Homo sapiens: one gene and its partner. The protein of the gene in region 2 purifies or fractionates together with the protein of the main gene of each other region. This does not show direct contact. Each region holds a gene or a part of one and is shown on either strand. Other genes may lie near its edges.

The links. Proteins that work in one complex are often made in the same cells at the same time.
Region 1: the proteins of APAF1 (region 2) and MKRN2 fractionate together in Homo sapiens (co-fractionation; one large-scale study listed by BioGRID). This does not show direct contact.

What each region holds. Positions count from the first base shown.
Region 1 is NC_000003.12:12,566,447-12,571,268, forward strand, and holds part of MKRN2 (E3 ubiquitin-protein ligase makorin-2), read left to right. Parts: intron 1-2,428; coding exon 2,429-2,557; intron 2,558-3,624; coding exon 3,625-3,806; intron 3,807-4,822. UniProt on the Homo sapiens protein: E3 ubiquitin ligase catalyzing the covalent attachment of ubiquitin moieties onto substrate proteins.
Region 2 is NC_000012.12:98,664,942-98,669,763, forward strand, and holds part of APAF1 (apoptotic protease-activating factor 1), read left to right. Parts: intron 1-109; coding exon of another isoform or gene 110-138; exon of another isoform or gene 139-417; intron 418-611; coding exon 612-850; intron 851-1,248; coding exon 1,249-1,416; intron 1,417-2,571; coding exon 2,572-2,703; intron 2,704-4,822. UniProt on the Homo sapiens protein: Oligomeric Apaf-1 mediates the cytochrome c-dependent autocatalytic activation of pro-caspase-9 (Apaf-3), leading to the activation of caspase-3 and apoptosis. This activation requires ATP. Isoform 6 is less effective in inducing apoptosis.

The DNA.
Region 1 (4,822 bases), on a different chromosome or scaffold from region 2:
AGTTTGTTTCTCTCTCTCTCTCTCTCAGATGGTTTCTATTCTGTGTCTTCAAGTATTCTGATATTTTCCTTTGTAGTATCCCATCTACTAAACTCATCTAATGTAATTCTCATTTCAGACATTGTATTTTTCACTTCTAGAAGTTTCATTTGTTTTTTGTTTTGTTTTGTTTTGAGGTGGAGTTTCGCTCTTATTGCCCAGGCTGGAGTGCAATGGCGCGATCTTGGCTCACTGCAACCTCCGCCTCCAGGGTTCAGGTGATTCTCCTGCCTCAGCCTCCCAAGTAGCTGGGATTACAGGCACCTGCCACCACACCTGGCTAATTTTTGTATTTTTAATAGAGATGGTGTTTCACCATGTTGACCAGGCTGGTTTCGAACTCCTGACCTCTGGTCATCCACCCACCTCAGTCTCCCAAAGCGCTGGGATTATAGGCGTGAGCCACCACACCTAGTATTTGGTCTTATTTAAATCATCCATTTCTCTCCACATTATGTTTATGTTTTTCTTTAAATCTTTCAGCATATTGAGCATATGTATAATAGCTGTTCTTAAGGTCTTATTTTGCTGATTCCATCATCTCTGTAATTCCTGTTCTTTATTTTTCTCCTGGTTATAGGTCACATTATTTTCTGCTTTTTGGCATATCTAGTAATTTATGATTGGATGCCAAGCATTGTGAGTTTCTGAGCATTTGGATTGTATTGTCTTCCTTTAAAGTTTGTTTTGGCTGACAGTAAGTTATATACTTGCTATCAGCTTGTGTTTTTTTTTTTTAAGCCTTATTAGGGTGTGTCTAAAATACTTCTACTCTAACACTAGTTTACTTTTTTTTTTTCTTTTGTGAGACAGGATCTTGCTGTCACCCAGGCTAGAGTGCAGTGGCACAATCATGGCTACTGCAGCCTTGAACTCCTGGGTTTAAGCAATCCTCCTGTCTCACTCTCCTGAGTAGCTGAACCACAGGTGCATACCACCATGCTAGGCTAATTTTTAAATTTTAGGGTCTCCCTTTGTTGCCCTGGCTAGTTTATCTTTTTTTTTTTTTTTTTTTTTTTGAGACAGAGTTTTTGCTCTTGTCACCCAGGCTGGAGTGCAATGGCGCAATCTCGGCTCACCGCAACCTCCACCTCCTGAGTTCAAGCGATTCTCCTGCCTCAGCCTCCCAAGTAGCTGGGATTACAGGCATGCACCTCCACTCCTGACTAATTTTGTATTTTTTTTAGTAGAGACGGGGTTTCTCCATGTTGGTCAGACTGGTCTGGAACCCCCGACCTCAGGTGATGCGCCCGCCTTGGCCTCCCAAAGTACTAGGATTACAGGTGTGAGCCACCACACCCAGCCTAGTTTATCTTTAATATCAAGACATGTTCATCTAGGGTCTCTACTGTTTGAGTATTCACTCAGGTCTCTCTACCCTGTCTGGACAGAGTTAGCCTCCCAGGTATTCCTGTACCACTTATTCTTCAAGGCCAGGATCTGATATCTCAGTGGAATATTCTGATACAGAACATGTGATACATCTGATATTCTGAAACATCTGAAACAATGTATGAGAAACAGCTTTCATTAAAAACTACAAGTACCCATACAACCTTTCTGTTTCTCACTTTCAGTACGGTGTTCAATAAATTGCATGAGATTATTCTACACTTTATTGTAAAATAGATTTTGTGTTAGATGATTTGGCCCAACTGTAGGCTGATGTAAGTGTTCTAAGCATAAGTAAGGTAGCCCAGGCTGAGCTAGGAGAATCGCTTGAACCCGGAAGGCAGAGGTTGCAGTGAGCTGAGACTGTGCCATTGCACTTCAGCCTGGGTGACAGAGAGACTCCATCTCAAAACAAAAAACAAAAAACAGTGGCTTTATTGGGATGTAACTCCATCATTAGTCAAGGAGCATCTGTGTATATCTTTTGATACCACACTATGGTATTTGATCCTCACCACGACCAGTTAAGTGGGTAGTATAATCTTCATTTTATAGGGAAAGGTAGCAAGGCCCAGGGAAGTTGGTTTTGTGACATGTTCTTAAGTGGCAGAGCTGGGTCTTGAGCCCAGATCTTCTGGTTTCGTTAGTCATGCCCTTTAAGCTCCTTGAGAACAGAGAGAACAGTTTTTCACAGAGTGTTTTCTCAATTATGTGGCTCACATTGAACATATCTCAAATCAGGAAGATATATCTTCACATAGAAATATATGGGATCATTTGTTTTTCTTTCAGAAAAGCTGTCATTGAATCAGTTGTAGTGCCTCTGAAATCACTGTTGTAGAATCAAGGAAATATATAGATCTCTCTCCAGTGCCTAATAGAGCCTTTATACATAATATATGCCTGGTAAATGTTTGTATGCTAAGTTCAAGAATAAGCTGATTTTATAAAGCAAAATGTGCTTCTAAAAGTTGTATGCCTGTGCTTGTCTCTGCAGGTATTTTATGCATGGTGTGTGTCGGGAAGGAAGTCAGTGCCTATTCTCACATGACTTGGCAAACAGCAAACCGTCCACCATCTGCAAGTACTACCAGAAGGGCTACTGTGCCTATGGAACTCGGTGCAGGCAAGGACTCTGCAACAGATTCCAGCTGTGACACTGATTTCATTTGGAGAATGGGTCTTGATAAGGGGGAAATTTTAATGTAAAAGTAATATGGCAACATCACAAAAAGTATGGCAAATAAGTTTAAAACCTCAGTTTCAGTACCCTAAAACTAATTTTCTTTTCTTTTTTTTTTTGAGATAGAGTCTCTCACTGTTGCCCAGGCTGGAGGGCAGTGGTGCGATCTCAGTTCTCTGCAACCTCCGCCTCCAGGGTTCTCCTGCCTCAGCCTCCCAAGTAGCTGAGATTACAGGCATCTGCCACTACGCCTGGCTGATTTTTTTTTTTTTTGTATTTTTAGTAGAGATGGGGTTTCACCATGTTGGTCAGGCTGGTCTCTAACTCCTGACCTCGTGATCCTCCCGCCTCAGCTTCCCAAAGTGCTGGAATTACAGGCGTGAGCCACCGTGCCTGGCCTAATTTTCATTTTTTAAAACTACTTTTCAGCCTTATTCTTATGAATATATAGTTATAAAATTGTACACAATTCCGGAAACTTGTTCATGCTTTTGTAGCAAAGAGCCGATCTTTTCTTTCTAGACTGCAAAGCTTCCTTCCCTCCTTTTTCTCTGCAGTGCAGTGGGAGATGATGGAAGTAGGCCCACGTTGGTCTTCCCCTGTCAATGAGTGCCAAGAGAGACAGTCAGGGAGAGATCATTGGCCCTTGTCAGCATTTTGGGGACTCCTGCTCAAAAGAATACTGGGTCAGTCAGGCATCAGGAGATTTTAGCTCAACATCTGTTTGGAACTTTCAGGTTCTCTGTGTGGTCTGGTGCTGTGTGTCTGTCCCACTCAAGTCCCACAGAGACACTTAAGCATAGGTGATAGATAGCAAATGTCCCCCTCACAATGAATTGCCAAGCATCTGTTAATAATCGATAATCCTGTTAGAGTTTAAATATTGGAAAAGATGGCCGCCTTCTTCACCTCAACAAGTGCAGCAGAAGGAGGGCCATTGGCATCTGGGGAGTGTGGGAGATGTGTGTGGGTGGCATGTCTGTAATGCATCTGCTGTGTGTTTTGTTTAGATATGACCACACGAGGCCCTCTGCTGCAGCTGGAGGTGCTGTGGGCACCATGGCCCACAGTGTGCCCTCCCCAGCTTTCCACAGTCCTCACCCTCCTTCCGAGGTCACTGCATCCATTGTGAAAACTAACTCACATGAACCCGGAAAGCGTGAAAAGAGAACATTGGTTCTTAGAGACCGAAGTGAGTAAGCGGAAGCCTTTTGTTGCGTCTTTTTGCATAGCACTCTTGTTAATGCTTGGTGCTCCTTTCTAGCCTCCTCTTGTCAAGAGGACTCCTAACCTAATACACCTCCAGATTGTCTGCGCGGAGAGACTTCAGAACTGTTCTGAAGAGGCTCCATGTGGCTGCAGATCATTCAAATGATACATTCGCCCTCGTGCCCAAGGCTGGGTTGAGCTCCAAGACTGGCCTGGTAAAACATAAAAACACAATCTTTTTGTCAACATGTAACTTCCATCTTCATATGGTGGTTGTCCAGCTGGTGAGAAGCATCAAGCTCTTCATTTCAAACGTAAATATTTTGTCTGGGTAAAGTGGCTCACACCTATAACCCCAACACTTTGGGAGGCTGAGGCGGGTGGATCACCTGAGGTCAGGAGTTCGAGACCAGCCTGGCCAACATGGTTTAGTAGAAACCCTGTCTCTACTAAAAATACAAAAATTAGCCGGGTGTAGTGGCAGGTGTCTGTAATCCCAGCTACTTGGGAGGCTGAGGCAGGAGAATTTCTTGAACCCGGGAGGCAAAGATTGTAGTGAGCTGAGATCACGCCACTGCACTCCAGCCTGGATGACAAGAGTGAGACTCCCTCTCAAAAAAAAAAAAAAAAAAAAGAAAACTAAATATTTTGCTAAAGAGCATGTTTCACTGTTTGACTTTTAGGCCAGTGAATGGTCTTAGTTTTTATGCTGACAGTGTTTGACAGTTTAGATTGCACCTTTGGGAAAAGAATAGCACACTAGGGTTTGGGGCATGGTCTGTGCCTTAAAACAGGGTTTGATGAGGAAGAAAGCTACAAATTGTAAAAGTTTTTTTGTTGTGTTTTTTGTTTGTTTTGTTTTTGTTTTTTTTTTGGAGATGGAGACTCGCTCTGTCGCCTAGGCTGCAGTGCAGTGGCATGATCTCCACCTCCCGGGTTCAAGGGATTCTCTTGCCTCAGCCTTCTGAGTAGCTGGGAATACAGGTGCCCACCACCATG
Region 2 (4,822 bases):
CACTTCTGTATTATTGGACATTGTTTACGTTGTTTAAGATTTTTTCACTATTCTAAGTGTGCTGTGATGAATATCCTTAAACTTAATCATTCTTTTCTTTTTCTTTAAGACAGAGTCTCACACTGTTCCTCAGGCTAGGATGCAGTGGTGCTGTCATGGCTCACCGTAGCCTCAACCTCCTGGGCTGAAGCAATCCTCCCACCTCAGCCTCCTAAGTAGCCGGCACTATAGGCACACACCACCACACCTGGCTGATTTTTCTAATTTTTATTTTTAGTAGAGACAAGGTCTCATTATATTGCTTAGACTGGCGCATATATATATATATATATATATATTTTTTTTTTTTTTTGTAATGACATCTTAGCCAGATTTGATCTATGTTATTTTGACTTAATAAAGATAATCAGGAACTTACTGAATGAAATCTTTCTTATTTCTAATTTTTTTTGGGATAAATATCTAGAAGTGAAGTCAAGAGTGATAAATACTTAAGGCTTTTGATAACATGCAGCAGAAATTGTTTCTTAGTAATGTAAGTAAGTAAGTCGATTCTTATTAGTGACAAAATAGGATGGTATTAGCATAGTGACTTCATTTTTTTTTTAAAGGCTCTCCCCTTGTAGTATCTTTAATTGGTGCACTTTTACGTGATTTTCCCAATCGCTGGGAGTACTACCTCAAACAGCTTCAGAATAAGCAGTTTAAGAGAATAAGGAAATCTTCGTCTTATGATTATGAGGCTCTAGATGAAGCCATGTCTATAAGTGTTGAAATGCTCAGAGAAGACATCAAAGATTATTACACAGATCTTTCCATCCTTCAGAAGGACGTTAAGGTGCCTACAAAGGTAATGGGATCAATGATCCTCATCATTGGGTATTTATTGCATGTAAGCTTTGATATAGTACTGAGCATGTTGTTACAGAGAACCTTGGAAGGATAAGACCCAGGGGACTGAGGTGGTGGGGTGTTGGGTGTAGAAATCCCTCTGCTGTTAGCTTCCATTAAGGGCTTTGTGTTGAACTCAGGAGTTAACCTATTTCTGTGGTTCTAGTGCAGCTGAAGAAGCATCTGACTTCTCTTTCTCTTTTCTATCTTGAGGAGTAGCTGAGTTTCTTCTTAAGAAATGGAGACATTCTTACTCAGGGCTTTAAGATACCGTTTTTTTGTGTGTGTGATAATACCTGTCTACAGTCCTGGTCATTGTACTTTTGTGGCATATTAAATACTTACAACAATTCCTAGGTGTTATGTATTCTCTGGGACATGGAAACTGAAGAAGTTGAAGACATACTGCAGGAGTTTGTAAATAAGTCTCTTTTATTCTGTGATCGGAATGGAAAGTCGTTTCGTTATTATTTACATGATCTTCAAGTAGATTTTCTTACAGAGAAGAATTGCAGCCAGCTTCAGGTACTTGCATCTTGGTTTACTTTTTTTTTTCCTTTTTCCTTTGAAATAATTTTAGATTTATTGAAAATTTACAAAATAGTAGATAGTTTCTGTGCATAAGTCCTTCACCTAGCTTCCCCTAATATTAACATTTTATATAACCATAGTACAGTTGTTAAAGCCAGAAAATTAACATTGATACAATACTGTTCACTAACCTACGTGTTCTTTTTGTAGTCCAGGCCAATTTAGGATCCCGTATTGCATATGATTGTCTTGTTTCCCTACTTGTCATTTTTTTCCGTCTCCTCAAATCTGTGAAAATTTATCAGTCTTTATCTTTCATGGCCTTGTCACCTTTGAAGAGTACTGGCTAGTAATTTTGTACAGTATACCCAAATTTGGTTTTGTGTGATGTTTTTCCTGACTAGATTGAAGTTATAGATATTTGGCAAGAATACCAATGATGTTGTATCTTTCTCAGTGGCGTCATAGGCTGAGAGTACTTGGTGGTTTTTAAAAAATTTTTTGTAGAGATAGTGTTTTGCCATGTTGCCCAGGCTGTTCTTGAACTCCTGGGCTCAAGTGATCCACCTGTCTTGGCCTCCCAAAGTGCTGAGATTGTAGGTATGAGCCACTATTCCCAGACTCCTGGTGTTGATATGTTTTATTATGGGTGATGTTAATGTTGATAATTTGTTTAAAGTGGTATCTGCCAGGTTTCTGCACTGTAAAGTCATTATTTTGTGGGGAGATTCTCTGTATATATATATGTATTTTTTTTTTTTTGAGACAGGGTCTTACTGTGTTGCCCAGGCTGGCATGCAGTGGCTCACTGCAATCTTAAACTCCTGGGCTCGGTTGGTCCTGAGTAGCTAATTCCCGAGTAGTTGGGTCTGCAGGCATATGCCACCACACCTGACTGATTTTTTTTATTTTTTATTTTTTGTAAAAAAATTAAATATACGGATATCTCTCTATGTTGCCCAGGCTAGTCTCGAAGTCCTGGCCTCAAGTGATCCTCCTACCTTGGCCTCCCAAAGTGCTGGGATTACAGGCGTGAGCCACCGAGCCCGGCCTCTCTGTACATTCTTAATAGCTTTGGAAGCTGAAGTTACTGTGATGCTTAGGTTATAAAATTGTTTCTGGCTTCTGAAACGTTTCATTGGGTTGCAGGATCTACATAAGAAGATAATCACTCAGTTTCAGAGATATCACCAGCCGCATACTCTTTCACCAGATCAGGAAGACTGTATGTATTGGTACAACTTTCTGGCCTATCACATGGCCAGTGCCAAGATGCACAAGGTAAGATGACCCATTTAAAAATTCTTTTATCTGACTTCCCTTTTTCCATATGTATTACAAATAAGTGCTTTTTTTCTGTTATTTTTTGTCTTGAATTTTGTTCATATTGCTTTCCATTTGATTTTTTTTTTTTTTTTTTTTTTTTGAGACAGGGTCTCACTTTGTTTCTCAGGCTGGAGTGCAGTGGCACAATCTCAGCTCATTACACCCTCACCTCCTGGGCTCAAGTGATCCTCCCACTTCAGCCCCCCATGTAGCTGGGACTATAGGCACATGCCACCATGCCTGGCTAATATTTTTGTATTTTTGGTGGAGATGGGGTTTCACTATGTTGCTCAGGCTGGTCTCAAACTCCTGAGCTTGACGTGAGCTCAAGTGATCCACTCGCTTCAGCCTCCCAAAGTGTTAGGAGTACAGGCATGAGCCACCGCGGCTGGCTGAAGATTTGAATTTTTATGTAGTTAAATTTACCACTGTTGTTGTCGTCGTTGTTTGGTATTTTGCTTTGCTGTCCTGTTCATAAACATGTATTGTTTTATTAGTATAATTTTTTATTAGTAAAAATGGGATTATAGCTTGCATAATTATTTTTGTTTTTACCTGTAGTGATTAGAAAAGGTACCTTAGTAACTAGTAAATGAACCACCTCAGAATTAATCCTCTTCTTACTAGTAGCTTTCCTTTTTGGGCAGTATGGATTTGTTTTGTAAGCTTTGAGAGGAAATGGATAGTGGAAAAGTATATTCATTGATTCAATAAATATTTATTGAGTGCTTGTTATGTATATTGCTCTTCATTAAGAGGATAAAGCACAGGCACAAAGTCATTGCTCTCACGAGTTTATGTTCTGGGAGGAGGCAGACATTAAACAAATTTATTATATTTCAGTGGGTAGTTAAGTGCTCAGAAGAAGGACAGAGCATGGAAGGGGAAAGAAAGTGATGATAGAGGGGTAGAATCATCATGATTTGCTTATGGGTTTGGTATGCATTATACGAGAAAGAGAAGAATCAAAGATGACTCCAAGAATCAAAGATGACTCAAACCCCAGTGGAAAGAACGGAGTCCATGAACTGAAACAGGGGTCTTTGGGAGAACAAGCTTTTTCCTGCAGAGAATGGGGATGGTTAAGAACTCATTTTGGATATATTAAGTCTGATATACCTATTAAGGCATCTGGCTGGAAATATTGAATAGGCAGTTAGATATATGAGTCTAGAATTCTGGGGAGAATTATAGATGAAAGATGAAAATAAGGAATTATTAGCACATAGATGGTATTTGATTGAAGTCATGACTACCAAGTAGCTACTAAAAATGTTTACATTTGGAAAACCATATGTACTTTCAGTAAATTTTCTATGCTCAGGTATGTTATTTCTTGGTTATGATACATAGTAAATTGTTGTAGTTTGTTTTTTTATCTAGCAAAATATATTTACATTTAATAGTGTATATTGGAATGATGGTATTCCAATAAATACTTGTGCCCTAATTTACTTAACCAAACTCTAGTTATCGAACATTTAGGTTTTCAGTTTTTTTGGTCCTTATGATGTAATGAGCATTCTTGTTTATCTTTGTACCTATGTTGTTTCCTTGGCAAATTCCGAGAAGTAGAATTACTGAGCCAATGCATCTTTTTAAAGCTTTTGACATGTATGATAGTGTGGCAGGATTCAGTTTCTCTTTAGCCTTTTTTCTGACTTTAAAGGTAATGGTTGATTTTCATTGGAAAAACAGAAAAAAACGATGAAAAGGAAAACAGAGATCACAACCATTACTAATGCTCTTGTGTATAGTTTTCTAGATCATTTTGCTGCTTCTATAAACATACTTGTCTCTTAAAACCAAATGGGATCATAATAGAAATAGTCTCATATATTGCTTTTTACCATTTAATTACATTGAATGGTCATCTTTTCATGTCATTTATATAGAGTGACATGATTTTTAAAGCTGCATATTATTTCATTGTATAGCTACATTATGAATGGCCAGTTGGTTGATGGACAATTAGATTGTTTAAGCATATTCATCTGGTTATTTTCTTAGGATACTTTTTTATAAGTGGAATTTCTGGGTCAAATAGTATGTGCAGTTTAAATTTTAATACAGA